3 separate regions of the Homo sapiens genome follow, and regions 1 and 3 are each linked to region 2. Evidence: fine-mapped expression QTL. A gene starts in region 2. Each other region holds a variant in brackets. All regions are shown on one strand. Distances are from middle to middle.

Evidence for each region. PIP is the estimated chance that this variant, and not a neighbour inherited with it, causes the effect.
Region 1: its variant is the best candidate, but not a certain one, in a credible set for the expression of PIGC in whole blood (INTERVAL, PIP 0.89).
Region 3: its variant is the best candidate, but not a certain one, in a credible set for the expression of PIGC in esophagus mucosa (GTEx, PIP 0.84).

Annotation. Positions count from the first base shown.
Region 1 is chr1:172,421,709-172,426,933 of GRCh38, reverse strand. The region is part of intron 1 of C1orf105 (chromosome 1 open reading frame 105); the gene reads right to left. It overlaps LOC102724528 (a long non-coding RNA gene), which reads left to right and starts at 3,578. Exons shown (of 3, transcript XR_001738294.3): 1 at 3,578-4,437. The variant G/T (reference allele first, on the strand shown) is at 3,192.
Region 2 is chr1:172,441,197-172,446,421 of GRCh38, reverse strand. PIGC (phosphatidylinositol glycan anchor biosynthesis class C) reads left to right here and starts at 2,353. Exons shown (of 2, transcript NM_153747.2): 1 at 2,353-2,434; 2 at 3,592-4,965. The coding sequence starts at 3,800. The coding sequence ends at 4,693. It overlaps C1orf105 (chromosome 1 open reading frame 105), which reads right to left. Exons shown (of 7, transcript NM_139240.4): 2 at 1,264-1,349. RefSeq lists enhancers at 1,965-2,274, 1,998-2,521.
Region 3 is chr1:172,493,192-172,498,416 of GRCh38, reverse strand. No RefSeq gene overlaps it. Among named protein-coding and RNA genes, the nearest start is that of SUCO, 37 kb to the left of the region's middle. RefSeq lists enhancers at 450-950, 951-1,451. The variant C/T (reference allele first, on the strand shown) is at 2,464.

The DNA of each region.
Region 1 (5,225 bases), 19 kb after region 2:
AAACCAGAGTAGGTAGAGAGTTAGATTTACCCAGAATGGTGGTTTTAACAAATTGAGAGAAGGGCAAGGGAGACAGGTATATATGCATGGGCATGATGACAATGATTGACCATTCAATTTAAGTTGGGTAAGGAGAGTGAACCTCAAGAAGGGTGAAGGACAGAGGGCTGAGGGACAGCATAAAGGTGAATAGATTGGAGATCCAAGAGATTAAAACAATAGAAGTAGGCTAGAAAGATAGGATATAGAGATGAGAGAGTGGGGAAAGACAAGGTTTTAATTTTGGAAATGAGTAGCTGAGATAGAGTGGAGAGCAAGATCATTGCAAGATCTCACTACTTAGCACTCAAGTAGAAGAAAAAAAAAAAGACCATTGAAAGAGTGAAGTCAAGAAAATGAGAGGCAGGGTGAGGGTGGATTACCAAGAAGCGTATGAAAATCCCCAAGAATTAAAACAGGAGTATCACTGGAGGGAGTGACATTGAAACAGGAGCTAAAATCATCAAGAAATAAGGGAGAATGAATTGGGCATTGGTAGTTAAAAGCAACACATAGGGTCATGTAGATAGTGCTGTAATCTGATGCCATGAGGTTCAAAGCTGGGGGTTTTAGCGAGGAGGAAAGAAGAATGGTCTGAAAACAAAACAAAAAATGAGGATAACTACCCCACTTCAGGCTCAGCAGTGTGAGGGCTGTGGGAGACAAGCTGCCACCTTTGGAAAAGGATGCAGGGGAGGCAGTCCTTTCAGAGAAACTCTGGTTTGTTAGAGTAAGATTGTGAAGTGCATATCCAGAGAATAGGTTGAAGATACAGGGAATTTTGTTGATCATGGGCAGTGAATTATAGAGGAGACAGTGGAAGGGTTACAGAAATTTGGGAGAGATGGGAAGACAGAATAGGAACATACAGAACTGCATGGAAATTAGCGTGGAGAGTGGCCTAGAATCCAGGGGTTCTTGGATGATTGACACAGGCTGGGATAAAAGGTTAATGACATAAGTTCCAGTAAGTGTAAGGCAGATAGTAGTAGTGAGCGTGTGAGTGGGTGGGTAGGGAGGGGTGAATTTTGGGGGCTTCCTCTTCACCTTGAAGGAGATGTGTTCTCAGAATGTAGGCCTTTTCACATCCTCATGAGCATATTATTGCTCACTAATGGGATTAATGTGCTAGTTCTCTGGGTTATGTGCATTTTGACAAGGACCTTTTGGGGATAATATCACAAACCTCCTCAGAACAGTGCAAACTTCTAATAGCAAGCAGTGTCATTGTAGTGCTCTAAAAATTTTGATTTTGGGCAAAGTGATCAGAGCTTAGGTGAGAGCCAGGGTTTGACCAACATTCTGTGGAAGGTTGGGCCTGATAAGGCATACTCCTTTGGCCACCAAGAGGGCTCAGCTGCAGGGGAGAGGCAGATTAGAAACAGCTGAAGGCTTGTTGGGCCTGCTAGCTTAGACCACGCCTATACTTTTTGCTTTTTTTTCCTTTCGTAACTCACAGATGCCATCAATGTTGGTGTAACTTGACGAACAATAACCATCATCAAAAAATTAAAACATCATTTTCCTCCAGGTATATTACTGTGATTAATGAGATAATTCCCCAGAGGTGGGGTAGTCAGGAAGCAGCCATTTCCCAATTGGCTGGCATGTGCTCAGCACCACAAGTCTGGCAACACTATTTGGTGCTGCCTCCTTATGCCCATCAGGTAATGCTGGGGTAAAAGTACCCAAGGAAAGGGCTTAGAAAGACAAATGGCCTTTTCTGCCACCAAATGGAACCAACTGGCATTGAGAATCAAGTAACATCCAGTATGATCCTAAGGTCTTCTGTCCTAAACAGACTAGCTCTGTAATTCTTTGACCATAATACTACTAGGATGATGGAACAAATTGATTTTACCAATGCTGAGGTCCCTCAGGCTCCCACGAAACCTGGCTCAAGAGGAGCTGCTTCTACTTTACAAGCTCTGTTGGCTCACTGCTTGCCACTCCAGGCTGGCCCTGTGGCCTTGTGCTGGGCCCGAGTGACATTTGAACTCTGGTCAGTGAGAACACTGTGGGCCTCACACTCTTTTTAAGTTGCAAAATAAATAGATCTTTAAGACATTGAGCAGATTTTGTGGATGTAGCTGAGAATATTTTTGTCATTAAAAGAAAAAAAAAGAGGCAGAAGGAATCATCTCTTTGACTCTAACTTGCTCTCCATTGCCTTCTGAATGTACCCTCAGAGATAAGAACAAGGAGGCCGGGCACGGTGGCTCACACCTGTAAACCCAACACTTTGGGAGACTGAGGTGGGCAGATCACTTGAGGTCAGGAGTTTAAGACCAGCCTGGCCAACATTGTGAAACCCCATCTCTACTAAAAATACAAAAATTAGCCGGGTGTGGTGGCAGGCACCTGTAGTCCCAGCTACTCTGGAGGCTGAGGCATGAGAATCTCTCGAACCCGGGAGGCAGAGGTGGCAGTGAGCCGGGATCGTGCCACTGCACTCCAGCCTGGGTGACAGAGCAAGACTCCATCTCAAAAAACAAAATAAAAAAGAGAAGGGAATATAACCCCTAAAAGCCTGAGAGGCTAATTTTTTGATAATGTTATGTGGAACATCAAAATACTTTGTTAGTAGCTGTTTTGAGAGGCAGAACCCACATTAGTGACTTCTTGGTTACTGCCTTGCAGATCCTTAAGTCTCTTTGGTCTTCTGCGGCTTGCTTAGGCTTTCTTTATTATCTACCCATGGCTCATGTTCATGAGGTTCATTGAAGATGTGAACTGGGGCTGAAAATTGGGATGTGACATAATGTATGATAAAACTTGATTTGATTAAAAACCGAGGATGGGAGTAGGAGTTTATAGTGTTGACTCATCCAATAGCCTGCCACCTAGTCTGATCTTAATATGTTGACAGTATTTAGATTCAATAGTAACTTGTAGCATCAAAAACAATAACAAAAATATATAAAGATGGTCCCTGACATACAATGGTTCAACTTGGAATTATTCTTTTGTCCCCTCTATATATTTTCAAACAGCCTGGCTTCAAGCTCACTAATTCTTTCTTCTGCTTGATCAATTCTGCTAACAGCCTCTGATGGATGCATCCTTCAGTATGTCAATGGCATTTTTCAACTCCAGAATTTCTGCTTGATTCTTTTTAATTATTTCAATTTCTTTGTTAAATTTATTTGATA[G/T]AATTCTGAATTCTCCCTCTCTGTGTTATCTTGAATTTTTTTGAATTTCCTCAAAACAGCTATTTTGAATTCCTTGTCTGAAAGGTCACTATCTCTGTCTCTTCAGTATTGGTCACTGATGTCTTATTTAGTTTGTTTGGTAAGGGCATGTTTTCCTGGATGGTCCTGTGCTTGTGGATGCTTGTTAGTGTCTGGTCTGGGCTTGTTTGTACCTGTCCTTCTTCGGAATGTTTTCCAGGTATTTGAAGGGACTTGGGTGTTATGATCTAAGTTTTTGGCCACTGCAGCCATATCAGCATTAAGGGGTACCCCAAGCCCAGTAACGCTGTGGCTCTTGCAGACTCATAGAGGTACCACCTTGGTGGTCCTAGATAATATCCAGAATAATTCTCTGGATTACCAGGCAGAGACTCTTGTTCTCTTCCTTTACTTTTTCCCAAAGAAACAGAGTCTCTCTTCCTGTGCTGAGTTGACTGGAGCTAAGGGAGGGGTGATATAAGCACTCCTGTGGCCACCACTACTGGGACTGCCCTGGGTCAGACCTGAAGCCAGCATAGCACTGGGTCTTGCCCAAGGCCCACTGTAACTATTACGTGGCTACCATCTATGTTCGCTCAAGGCTCTAGGGCGCTACAATCAGCAGGTGGTAAAACCAGCAAGGCTGTGTCCTTTCCTTCAGGGAATCAAGTTCCCCTGGGCCCTGGGTGAGTCCAGAGACGCTGTCTGGGAGTCAGGGCCTGGAGTTGGAAACTTTAGAAATCTACCTGGTTTTGTATTCTACTGTGGCTGACCTGGCACCCGAACCACTGAAGTCCTTCCCACCCTTTCCTGCTCTTCCCCAGGCAAAGGAGTTTCTTCTCATGTCCAACACCACCACAGGCCCATGAGGAGTACTGCTGGGATACTGCCAATGTTCACTTAAGGCCCAAGGGCTCTTCTGCCAGCATGTGTTGGATGCTGCCAGGAAAGTGACTTACCCTTCAGGGCAGTGGGCTCCTCTCTGGCCTAGAATAGGTCCAGAGATGCCATCCAAGAGCCAAGGACTGGAATCAGGGACCCAAAGAGCTGGCTTGGTGCTCTTTCCCACTGTGGCTAAGCTGGTACCTAAGCTCAAGACGGAGTCCCCTTTATTCTTCCCTCTGTTCTTCTCAAGCAGAAGTGGTCTCTCCTCGTAGCCACCAGACCTGTGAATGTGCTGGGTCACATCTGAAGCCAGTGCATTTCGGAGTTTCAGCTGAGGCCCACGGTATGTAGTACTTGGCTACTGCTACTGATTTTTCAGGGTCCAAAGGCTCTTTATTCAGCATGTGATGAAATCTGCCAAGACTGGGTCCTTCCCTTCAAGGCAGTTCCCTTTTGGCCCAGGGTATATCTAGAAATGTCATCCAAGAGCTAGGGCCTGCAATGAGTGCCTCAGGATTTTGCCCAGTACCCTATCCTACTCTGGCTGAACTGGTATCCAAGTTGCAAGACAAAGTCCTTTTCACTCTTCCCTCTTCTCTCCTCAAGCAAAGGAAGGAGTCCCTTTTGGAGCCATAAGCTGTGTTGCCTGGGGTTGGGGGAGGGGTGCTGTAAGCACTTACTTAGCCATCCTGGCTGGTGTCTTACTAGATCGTGCGCTCCCCAGTCCACTGGCTCAGAGCCCAGCACAGCACTAGGACTTGCCTGGGTATTGCAGTTGTTGTGGCCCAGACAGGCTTTCAAGTTTATTTAGGACCTCAGAGCACTTTAGCCCATGGTGGTGGAGGTAGTCAAAACTCAGTTTCTGAAACCTGGGATGGGCAATTCTCCTCTGGCTAAGGGTGGTCTAAATGGTCCCTCCATTGGCAACAGCTAAGTTCTGCCCCGTATTGGCAGCACTGAATTCTAGAGTCCCACAATCGCTGTGCCCTCCCTCCAAGTGCACAGATTCTCTCTCCACACTATGTGGCTGCTGCCAGGGGATGGGGGAGGGGTGGTGTCAGCAATTCAAGATTGTCTTTCTTATCTTCCTCAGTGCTTCTTTCAACAATACGAAGTTAAAACCAGGTACTG
Region 2 (5,225 bases):
ATTGCAGTCCTGTTTGGCCAGCTTTACTCATTATGCCCCTCATCTGACTGTCATGGGCCTGTGAGTTTGTGTCCCACCCTCAATTAAAATATGCTAGACTGTCCTTACTCGTGCTGATCCATGCAGTGTTAACAACTCTTAATAAGCACTCTATCACTTAGTACTTTTGTTTCTTAAATAGGCCTTTGAGTTTATTGAACCTCTGATAATCTGCTTTCGTTATATTCAAAATTATGTAAAAATAACACAACTGAATAACGAGCACTTGAAAGCACTTGTGAATTTTGTTCTGAAAATACTAAAACCGTCTACCTATTTACTGAGAATGAGATTTTTTTTTAATGTACAGTAGACAAAGCAAAGGTACATGTTACTAAAGTGGGGATGTGGAGACAGTGATGGGAATTTGCTTATGAAGTCACTTATCCATGGGCAGGAGGGTACATGGTAGTTATCAACAGGAGGAGAAACTCTTTTTGGGGAGTCTGGCTTTTCTAACGAGCTGTTTCGAATGCCAAGGAGTCATTCCTTTTTAGTCTGTCGTGTGCCTTTGGAATGGCCTCTATGCCTGCCCTTTCTCTTTCTCTCTGCCCTCTTTCTGGTTTCTCTCATTCACCCCAACACTACCTCACACCTACCCTTCTGTCCATGTCCCCTTCCCAGAGTGGGGTTTATCACTACACTTAGGAACCATTTCATCAAAAATGGAGAAGGGACACGGTAACCCAATTATTTCAAGAGACAGTTGAAATGCTCCCTAGATATGTAATTCCTGCAATTTTGAAAAATAGATTTATGTGTCATATAGTAGTTTGTTTGGAAGGAGTAGGACTAACAGGAATGTAGGAGGGTGCCTCAAAGTTACATACAGAGTTACTATTCTATAAAGATGGGAACTTACTGTTCTAGACTTTTGATGGTAAAAATGTGAAAATTTCAGACTACAGCAGTGGAGAAAATGTGGGGTGAGAAAGAGGATGGAAGTGTTTTGAGAGACAGTGTCTAGGGGAAAAATTATCTTATACTGTTGAGTGGTAGTGGTGGAGAGGGAAAAATTTTGAGATCTCATCTCCTCTAGCCAGGCCTATACTCAGTGATCATTTTTTTCTGAGAAACCCGGATTATTTCTATTTTTAAAGCACTTGACTTGAGTTTCTCAATGGATCAAATGTGCCCTCTGATAATTGTCCCCATCCCTTAAGAAGAAATCATCTTCTGTGAGATGTTTCGTAAAACTTTTGCCCTCGGTGGCTGAGAGGTTACCTTCTGGGAAGGCTGAGCACTAATGGCTTGTTTACAAGGCTGGCCTCACTAAGCCAAGGAATCTTGTCAAATTTTGGAACAGAAGCCTAGAGGGAAATAGAGAACATTTTACAGAATATATCACACTTAAACATTGCTATCATTACGATGGCCAAAGTCAGCTAATAGCAGCCATATAGTGAACACTTTACAAACCATTTTTATATTTAACTCTTTAACCATCCTATAAAGTAGCCAAGTGCAAATAATGTCATCTCCATTTTACTGATGAAGAAATCAAAGCTCAGGTAGTGTGATTTGCCTTGAGTCACTGAGCTAGTAAATGGGTCATGTTTTCTGACTTTTATTTCCACTGTATCCTGTGTTTTACTACATCCCTTTGTTTCTTTATTACTTCCTTCTGTTTATATATCCTTTAATATTTCCATGAACTCAGTTTAATTAGCAATCTTGTCCTCACTTCTTTTAGGAGGTAAAGAGGAAAAAAACCAAGCTTTGAAGCTATAGACAACTGGATATTGATCTCTGTTCATCTACTTCCCAGGTGCCTGTCTTTGGACAAATACAACTTATCTGAGCCTTAGATTTGTCCTCTTTGAGGGGGGAGATGATATAATCAGTGTAAAGGTCAATGCACCAAAAAAGAGAGTTTCATGAGAGCAGCAATTTTTGTGTGTTTCATTCACGGCTGTATCATGAGCACCCCAAGCATGGCTTGTTACATGCAGGCATTCAATCAGTATCTGTGGAATGAACGCATGGATGCACGGGAAGTCCCAGCTGAGGGCCTGACTTAATAAAGGAGCGCAACAAAAGCGGCCATTATCTCTCACCTACTGGCCCAGCCTCTTTCCTTGTCCTCTCTTGCCTTACCCAGTCCTTCAGATGGCACATCCCATCTTTCAATAGGGGATTGCTGGGGATTTGCCTTCCTAGGCTCAGAGCATTCGGGTTTGGGCCAGTCTCCAGGAGAGGAGACCGGAGGTCCTTCGAGCAGCCAGGAGGGGGCAGCAGTCACGTCGCGATGGTTCCAGCCGGGGAAGGGTGCCCTCGCTAAGGAGATTGCGGCGGACCCGGAAGTGCTTGGCCACAGTCGCAGCCCCGGCGCCCCGAAGCGGGAAAAAGGCTGGGTGCCGCCGTCCCCCAGCTGCGCAACCCTAGGAACTCTCGGGTAGGTGGGTTCCGTGTAACGGTCAGTGTTTCCGGGGCTCCTTTTCCTCTGCTGCCTCCCGCAGACCCAAGGCTGAGTGAGGGGCGGCGGCGGAAGTGGGAGGCCCACCCAAAAAGCCAAATGGGGTGCCAGAAGAGTGAAGGCGCACCCTGGGGTCACCCTACCCTACCCCGTCCCCTCCCAGCCCCACTCTGCGGGCGGGCGCTGCCCTTTTGGGCGTCGCAGACCCTCCAACCCCGGCGGCGGCCTTAAGATTCCCGGGCTGGGATCCCTGCTGCAGAGGGGGTAACGGTGTCTGGCTTGCCAAGCAATATTTGTTGTGGTCTATCATGGAAGAAATAAAGTCGGGCAATATGAATTTTTTTTTTCTCAAATTTGCCGGATGGCTGTGGTGTTTCTGACTCTTAGTTTTCTCATTGTGAAAAAGGAATGATTATCTTCTTCGATCCTCTCAAGAGTTTCCTTGTTTTGAGTAGATTGATAGCTCTTTAAAGGATGCTAAGCTCAGCTAATGGAAGAAGAGTCTAGTTTCTTTGAGGCTTTGATTTTGGTTAAACTATAGAGCTCATACCTTTCTGTATGGTGCAGCTTACTATTGTCTTTGGATTGGTAACTTAAAAAATACAAATAACATGCCTTTGAGAACCAATAAAAACTATGGATATTATCCCTATAAATTTACACAAATCCAGATATAAGCATGCAATGTGATATACCTAAGGGATATGTGAACCACTGAGTTAAGAACTGCTTTAGAGGGAGATACAATGTGAGACACAGGCTTTGGGATAAGACTTTGGTTTGAATCCTGGCTCTGCTCTGTTACCTTAGGGCAAAGTTACTTAAGCATCTTGAATCTCAGCTTTTTTACCAAAGCAGGACTAATACTAACTTACAAGGTGGTGAGGATTAAGTGAAAGAAGATACATAAGGCACTTAGCACATAGTAGGTACTCAATAAGCGATAGCTAACAGATGTCTATTATTATTCAAGGAATTATAATTTTCAAATCTGAAATGCAGTTTTAATGTCCCATAAGGTGACTACCACATACATTTTTCTCAGACTTTTAGTAAACTGAGTTGATTTGACTTTATCTCAGTACTACTCTTGACCTTTCACAACTTTCGTAGGTTCACAGTCTCTCTTTTTCTAGGAACTTGGCTGTGTTGTCCTGCCTCAGAGACAAATTCATCTATTGTAGGCCTAGCCCCTGCCTTTGAAAACAAGGAAAGGTTGGTAGAACATCAACACAGCATGGAATTTCCAGGGAGGTCTCATTTCAAAACTTCATAAAGAACAAGAACCACCTGGACTTCTGTGAGGGCGATGATTAAACTGGCCTGAGTTTGAATGAAAGGATAATGTATGCTCAACCTGTGACTAACACCAAGGAGGTCAAGTGGCAGAAGGTCTTGTATGAGCGACAGCCCTTTCCTGATAACTATGTGGACCGGCGATTCCTGGAAGAGCTCCGGAAAAACATCCATGCTCGGAAATACCAATATTGGGCTGTGGTATTTGAGTCCAGTGTGGTGATCCAGCAGCTGTGCAGTGTTTGTGTTTTTGTGGTTATCTGGTGGTATATGGATGAGGGTCTTCTGGCCCCCCATTGGCTTTTAGGGACTGGTCTGGCTTCTTCACTGATTGGGTATGTTTTGTTTGATCTCATTGATGGAGGTGAAGGGCGGAAGAAGAGTGGGCAGACCCGGTGGGCTGACCTGAAGAGTGCCCTAGTCTTCATTACTTTCACTTATGGGTTTTCACCAGTGCTGAAGACCCTTACAGAGTCTGTCAGCACTGACACCATCTATGCCATGTCAGTCTTCATGCTGTTAGGCCATCTCATCTTTTTTGACTATGGTGCCAATGCTGCCATTGTATCCAGCACACTATCCTTGAACATGGCCATCTTTGCTTCTGTATGCTTGGCATCACGTCTTCCCCGGTCCCTGCATGCCTTCATCATGGTGACATTTGCCATTCAGATTTTTGCCCTGTGGCCCATGTTGCAGAAGAAACTAAAGGCATGTACTCCCCGGAGCTATGTGGGGGTCACACTGCTTTTTGCATTTTCAGCCGTGGGAGGCCTACTGTCCATTAGTGCTGTGGGAGCCGTACTCTTTGCCCTTCTGCTGATGTCTATCTCATGTCTGTGTCCATTCTACCTCATTCGCTTGCAGCTTTTTAAAGAAAACATTCATGGGCCTTGGGATGAAGCTGAAATCAAGGAAGACTTGTCCAGGTTCCTCAGTTAAATTAGGACATCCATTACATTATTAAAGCAAGCTGATAGATTAGCCTCCTAACTAGTATAGAACTTAAAGACAGAGTTCCATTCTGGAAGCAGCATGTCATTGTGGTAAGAGAATAGAGATCAAAACCAAAAAAAATGAACCAAAGGCTTGGGTGGTGAGGGTGCTTATCCTTTCTGTTATTTTGTAGATGAAAAAACTTTCTGGGGACCTCTTGAATTACATGCTGTAACATATGAAGTGATGTGGTTTCTATTAAAAAAATAACACATCCATCAAGTTGTCTCATGATTTTTCCATAAACAGGAGGCAGACAGAGGGGCATGAAGAGTGAAGTAAGTGTGTGTGTGTGTGTGTGTGTGTGTGTGTGTGTGTGTGTAAAGTCACTTCTTTCTACCCTTTTCAATGTGCTAATGCTCTTTTATTTATCTAGGGCTCAAATCTTAGAACACAGGGTGCTATGCTCAGTTTTGTTGCCCAAGATCACAGAATTGGTTACTTAACCTTGACTCAGAGTTTCTACCTTGTTCTTAGG
Region 3 (5,225 bases), 52 kb before region 2:
TAAAAGTCGACTCCAGTGCTTCTGGGATATCAGTGTGCCTCTAAATCCCCTGGAGAACGCTTTAAAACATAGTATCCTGGGTCTCACCCCAGAGTTGGAGATTCAGTAGATCTGGGATGTAGCCTGAGAAGTTGCATTTATAACAAGTTCCTAAGGAAATGGGGAGGATGCTGCCAGGGGGGCACATTTTGAGAACCACTCATTTACACAAACTCAAGGGGTTCCCCAGCTTCTCTCTAGCCACCCAAAGTCACTGGTTTCTTGTTACTCTTTAATTGTTTTGTGCAGCAGAGCAGCACAGCAAATAACGCTGCCATTAGGAGAGCAGGCTCTGGGGCCAAACTACCGGGGTTTGAATCTTGGCCTTATTTTACAAGCTGTGTGATCCTGGCCAAATTATTTAACCTCTCTGTGCTCCAGATTCCTCACAAAAACACATATTGATATTTTTTGACTGCTTACTATGCACTAGGCATAGTTCCAATGTATTTACTATTAATTTTTTGATTCCTATAAGACTAAGAGGTAGGTGCTATTATCCCCAATTTACAGATGAACGAATTGAGGCACATCGAGGGATAATAATAGTAAACACTTTATTATTGTGTAGATTAAATGATATAATCCATGCTAAATTTTAATTTGAGCTTGTAAGAATGTTATTTACACTTACTACGGAAGCAAAGATTGGAAGGTCCTCTCCTTTCTTTTGAAAACTTTAAGGATTTTTCTAAGAGGATGAACCATTGTACTTCCATCTGAGTCCTATGGACAGGATCTAGCAATCACATCTCATATCCTCTCCCCCATTTAAGTTCTCCCACAAGAGAAGGGTTTCTCCCTTGCAGACTTTCTGTCTCCAGAGAGCTGCCACAGTTCTAAGGGCCCCAGGGCATGTGTGGGTGGAGCAGTGGGAATTGGGGAGGCATCCAGGAGGAAGTCTGCTTGAAAGCAATCGTGTGTGTTTGCCTGGTTAAGCAGGGAGTCCTGTATGAGACCTGACAGGGGCAGCTCACAAGAATGCAGGCAGCTTGCAAGCTCACTAGACCAAAAGAGGAAAGAAGGAGAGGAGAGAAAATGCCCGGAGCCCCAGAGCTGCGCCAGCACATTCCAGCATGGTTGACACTTGCTGATGGCCTTTGTTTTTCTAGCAGAGCTAGCGAGTAGGGGATAGATACCCGGGCATTGCTTTTTCTGACCTTGACACATTTTAAGCTTTCTTTTCCAGATCAGGACAGAAGGCTTTCTAAAGTAAACCTAGGTTGAATGTGAATACTAACTGGTATTTAATCACCATCATTAAATACCATCAGAGGAGTGAAAAACTGCTGTTTAAATCTTTAGAACTTTCTAGCTATAAGTAAAACATTCTGATATGCAGAGAGTCATCATTCAATTCTAACCAGTTATGCTGGCTGCTGAACCTCCTGTCTGTTCCTACACCCTGCCATGTCCTGGGATTAACTAATATCTTCCATGCCCTTGGGATGTCACCTCCCCCAGATGGTTCTTTGATTCCCTTTCCCAACCTTATCTCTCACCGGGGCTGGATTAGGTGCTGATCCCAGATGCTCTAATAGCCCCTGTTCTTACCATATTATTTCATGATGGCTTGTTTAGTTGTCTGCTTCTTCTATTCAACAAGAAGTTGTAAGCTTCTTATTCATTTGATTTCCCAATGCCAAGCACAGTGCCAGGCAGATAATAGGCAACCACTAAATCTCCACTGATAACTATTTTGTGCATACTGTTCTGTAGCAGGACAAGCCACAGACAAAACTCCTCAGACACCAAGTTGAAGAAGGAAGGGGTTTATTTGGCTGGGGGCATCGACAAGACTCCTGTCTCAAGAGCTGAGCTCCCTGAGTGAGCAATTCCTGTCCCTTTTAAGGGCTCACAACTCTAAGGGGGTGCGTGTGAGAGGGTGGTGATCGATTGAGCAAGGAGGGGGTATGTGACTGGGGGCTGCATGCACCAGTAATTAGATCAGAACAAAACAGGATAGGGATTTTCACAGTGCTTTTCTGTACAATGTCTGTAATCTATAGATAACATAACCGATTAGGTCAGGGGTCAATCTTTAACTACCAGGCCCAGGGTGTGGCGCCGGGCTGTCTGCTTGTGGATTTCATTTGTGTCTTTTAGTTTTTACTTTTTCTTTCTCTGGAGGCAGAAATTGGGCATAAGACAATATGAGGGGTGGTCTCCTCCCTTACTCCCACCCAGCCTTTGCTATCCTGCTAAGTTCTGTGGACCCTCCATTCCTCAAAGACCTGATTCCCACACTCACAGAGAACAGTAAAAGCAGAAACTGTGAGGCATTCTGCTTAGTTAGTGGTAAAACCTGGGGTGACAAATGTTTGACATGTTCCAGCTTAAACTAGGGGTAAATGGATTGAGTGAACAAATGGGAGGTGACTGCCCAGTGTGAATTGGTCCAGAGTGATGGATAGATGAGAGGTG[C/T]GTCTAAGCAGAGACAGAAGAGCACAGGCTTACACAGAAGGCCTCAATAATCCACTTGATCCCTTTCTAGATACCTAGTTCCTCCCATGGTAACAATTCTGATGACAGAGCAGATGCTCTGGAAGACCAGCTTTCCAGCAAGCCTTTACCATACTGATGAGGGCATTAGCAATGCCATAGACTGGCTAAGCCTGGTGTTATAGGACTCGCCACCTCCAAGGGGTGAGTTATATTCTGGCCTAAATCTGAGCCTTAAAGATGTGGCTTGGATTCTGCTGGCAGACATACTTCTCTGTACCCACTGCTCAGTCCTCATCATTGCAGACTTTTCTTCTCTCATCAGTTAGTCCCAAATTATATCCTTGGTCATAAGGGAACCAGGAGGAAAAAGTATATGGGTGCAACTTGTTAATGAAGAACCAAATTATGTAAAATATTTTAAAGGGGTTTATTCTGAGTCAAAATGAGTGATGACTGCCCAGGGAGAAACACAAAGCCAAGAAGCCTTGAGTAAGTGGTCCCAAGGCAGTCAGATTACATTTTGGTTTTATATATTTCAGGGAGGCAGGAGTTAAAGGAAAGACATACATCAATACGTGGAAGAGATACATTAGTTCCATCTGAAAAGGCAAGATATCTTGAAGTGGGAAGGGGGGTGCTTATAGGTTACAGGTGAATTTAGAGATGCTTTAATTTATAATTGGTCAAAGGAGTAAGGTTCCATCTACAACTTGAAGTCAATAAAAAGGAATGTGTTAAGTTAAGATTAGGAAGCTCTGTAGCCAGATTGATAGTCTGTAGGCATGACTTAACCCTTGTCTTCTATGACCTTAGTCTTGTGTATACTTTGGTATCTTATTGCCAGCTTGTTTTGTTAGCCTTATGATCTCTGTTTTAACAGTAATGCTGGTCAGTTGTGCCTAAACTCCAAAAGGGAGGGAGCATAACAAGGTAGGTCCAACCTTTCTTGCTGTCATGGACAGGAACTAAGTTTTTAAGATTTCTCTGGGGTCCCCATGGCCAAGAGAGGGTTCAGTTGGTGGAGAACTTAGGATTTTAAGTTTACAAACTGGACGGATACCTCAAAAGGCATCTATTTATAGATCAGTAGGATCCCTTTTTGGTAGGAGACAGGCAATGAAGATAATGTTCAGGGTCTGGAAGGCCTATTAGTTTGCCCTGGGTAGGATACAGTTGGGGCTCAGAAAACAATACCCCAGAATGAAGGCCTCAGAAACAGCCTCAGGAGCCAAAGGTTTTCTTTGACCTGCTGCTGCCCTCTTGTCTCCCAGCCTGCTTTCTCCCCTGAGACTAATCATAGAAACCAGAATCCCTCTTCACCAAGGTGGGTCAGGGACACCAGAGGGCTTTTTCCCTAAAGCTAGCCATAAAAACTAAAAATATTACTCTAACTTTTCCTCTTTCTGCGTAAAAACTGTCCATAAAGAAATTGTCTGACTTACCTTGTTTGACTGTAGGTCATAAGACCCCCGATTGCAGAGAGGGCTCTGCCCCAAACTCAGAAGGAAGGAGTGCATGCTCAGAGGCTAAGAAGAATCAGGCAGAGAGGCCTTGCTGGTTTTCCCCACTCAGTCTGCTAGCATTAGATCATACCTATTTTGTCCAATCATATTTCTACACAGCTCTCCATACTTTGTTGAACTAAGCATAAAAATGAACCATTTCCCCTTTATCTTTCAGTCTTCAGTCTGAAGGCTCCTGAGTATACATGTTAAATAAGTTTACCTGCCTTTTCTCCAATTAATCTGCCTTTTGTGAGTTGATTTTTTTAGTGAATCTCTGGCCCCTACAGTACCTATGCGTACACCTGGTGCAGAGGACCCCATGATTTTAGTGCTGTCCTTGGTGACTGATTGCTGTCTGTCCATAGTTCAACATGTTTCAGATTCTGCCTTTGTTGCTTTTGTGTGCACGTAGTCTTCTTAACATGAATATAGGCTTTTGGTGCTTCCTTTGTATTTTAGCACAGTTATAGGAACTTGGGGTGAAAGGAGGAGGAGAGACAATGCTTATTGAAATTATATAAAAATCAAGAAAGGCATTGGGGACAGAGCTTCAGTCCCGTCTATTGCCTTTCCAATCTAAGACTAAATTTAGTGTTCTGATTTTACTGACTTTATAAACTTCTAAATGAACGTTTGTGCAAAACCTGTATGGTACAGAAACAGGCTACAACAAAAACATGAGTTGTAATCTATTATGAAAGCTCATACATTTTTCCTGAGGATGCTAGGAAGCTCAAGTGTCCACCATCAGGGAGAATCCCCTCTTACCCCCATGTCCCAAACACTCTAAGCCTACAAAGTTAAGCCAGACCAGAGCTACACCCTTATTTTGGAATAAAATTTGGCTCTACCCAAGCATCACCCTTCAGTGAGCAATGGAGGCCAGATTCAGCAAGACAGTACAAGGAAATCTCATCCCTGGGACAAGTTCTTTTTTTTCCCACAAACATTAAAACTAGCTGAGAGATCTGGCATAGCAAAGTGGGTGATCTTTCTAGCATTCAAGAAGAAATAACTAAAGGAAGATAGATTGGTTGTCTTCAAATATTTGAAAATTTGTTGTTACTGGAGGGGAGTGGCTGGCTCTGTATTATTACTACAGGGGAGAAGTAGAAGAGTGGAAGCATAAAGAGGTTGATTTCACCTAGGCATGAGAAACAACTTTCTTTATTTTATTTATTTATTTATTTATTTGAGATGGAGTTTTGTTCTTGTCACCCAGGCTAGAGTGCAATG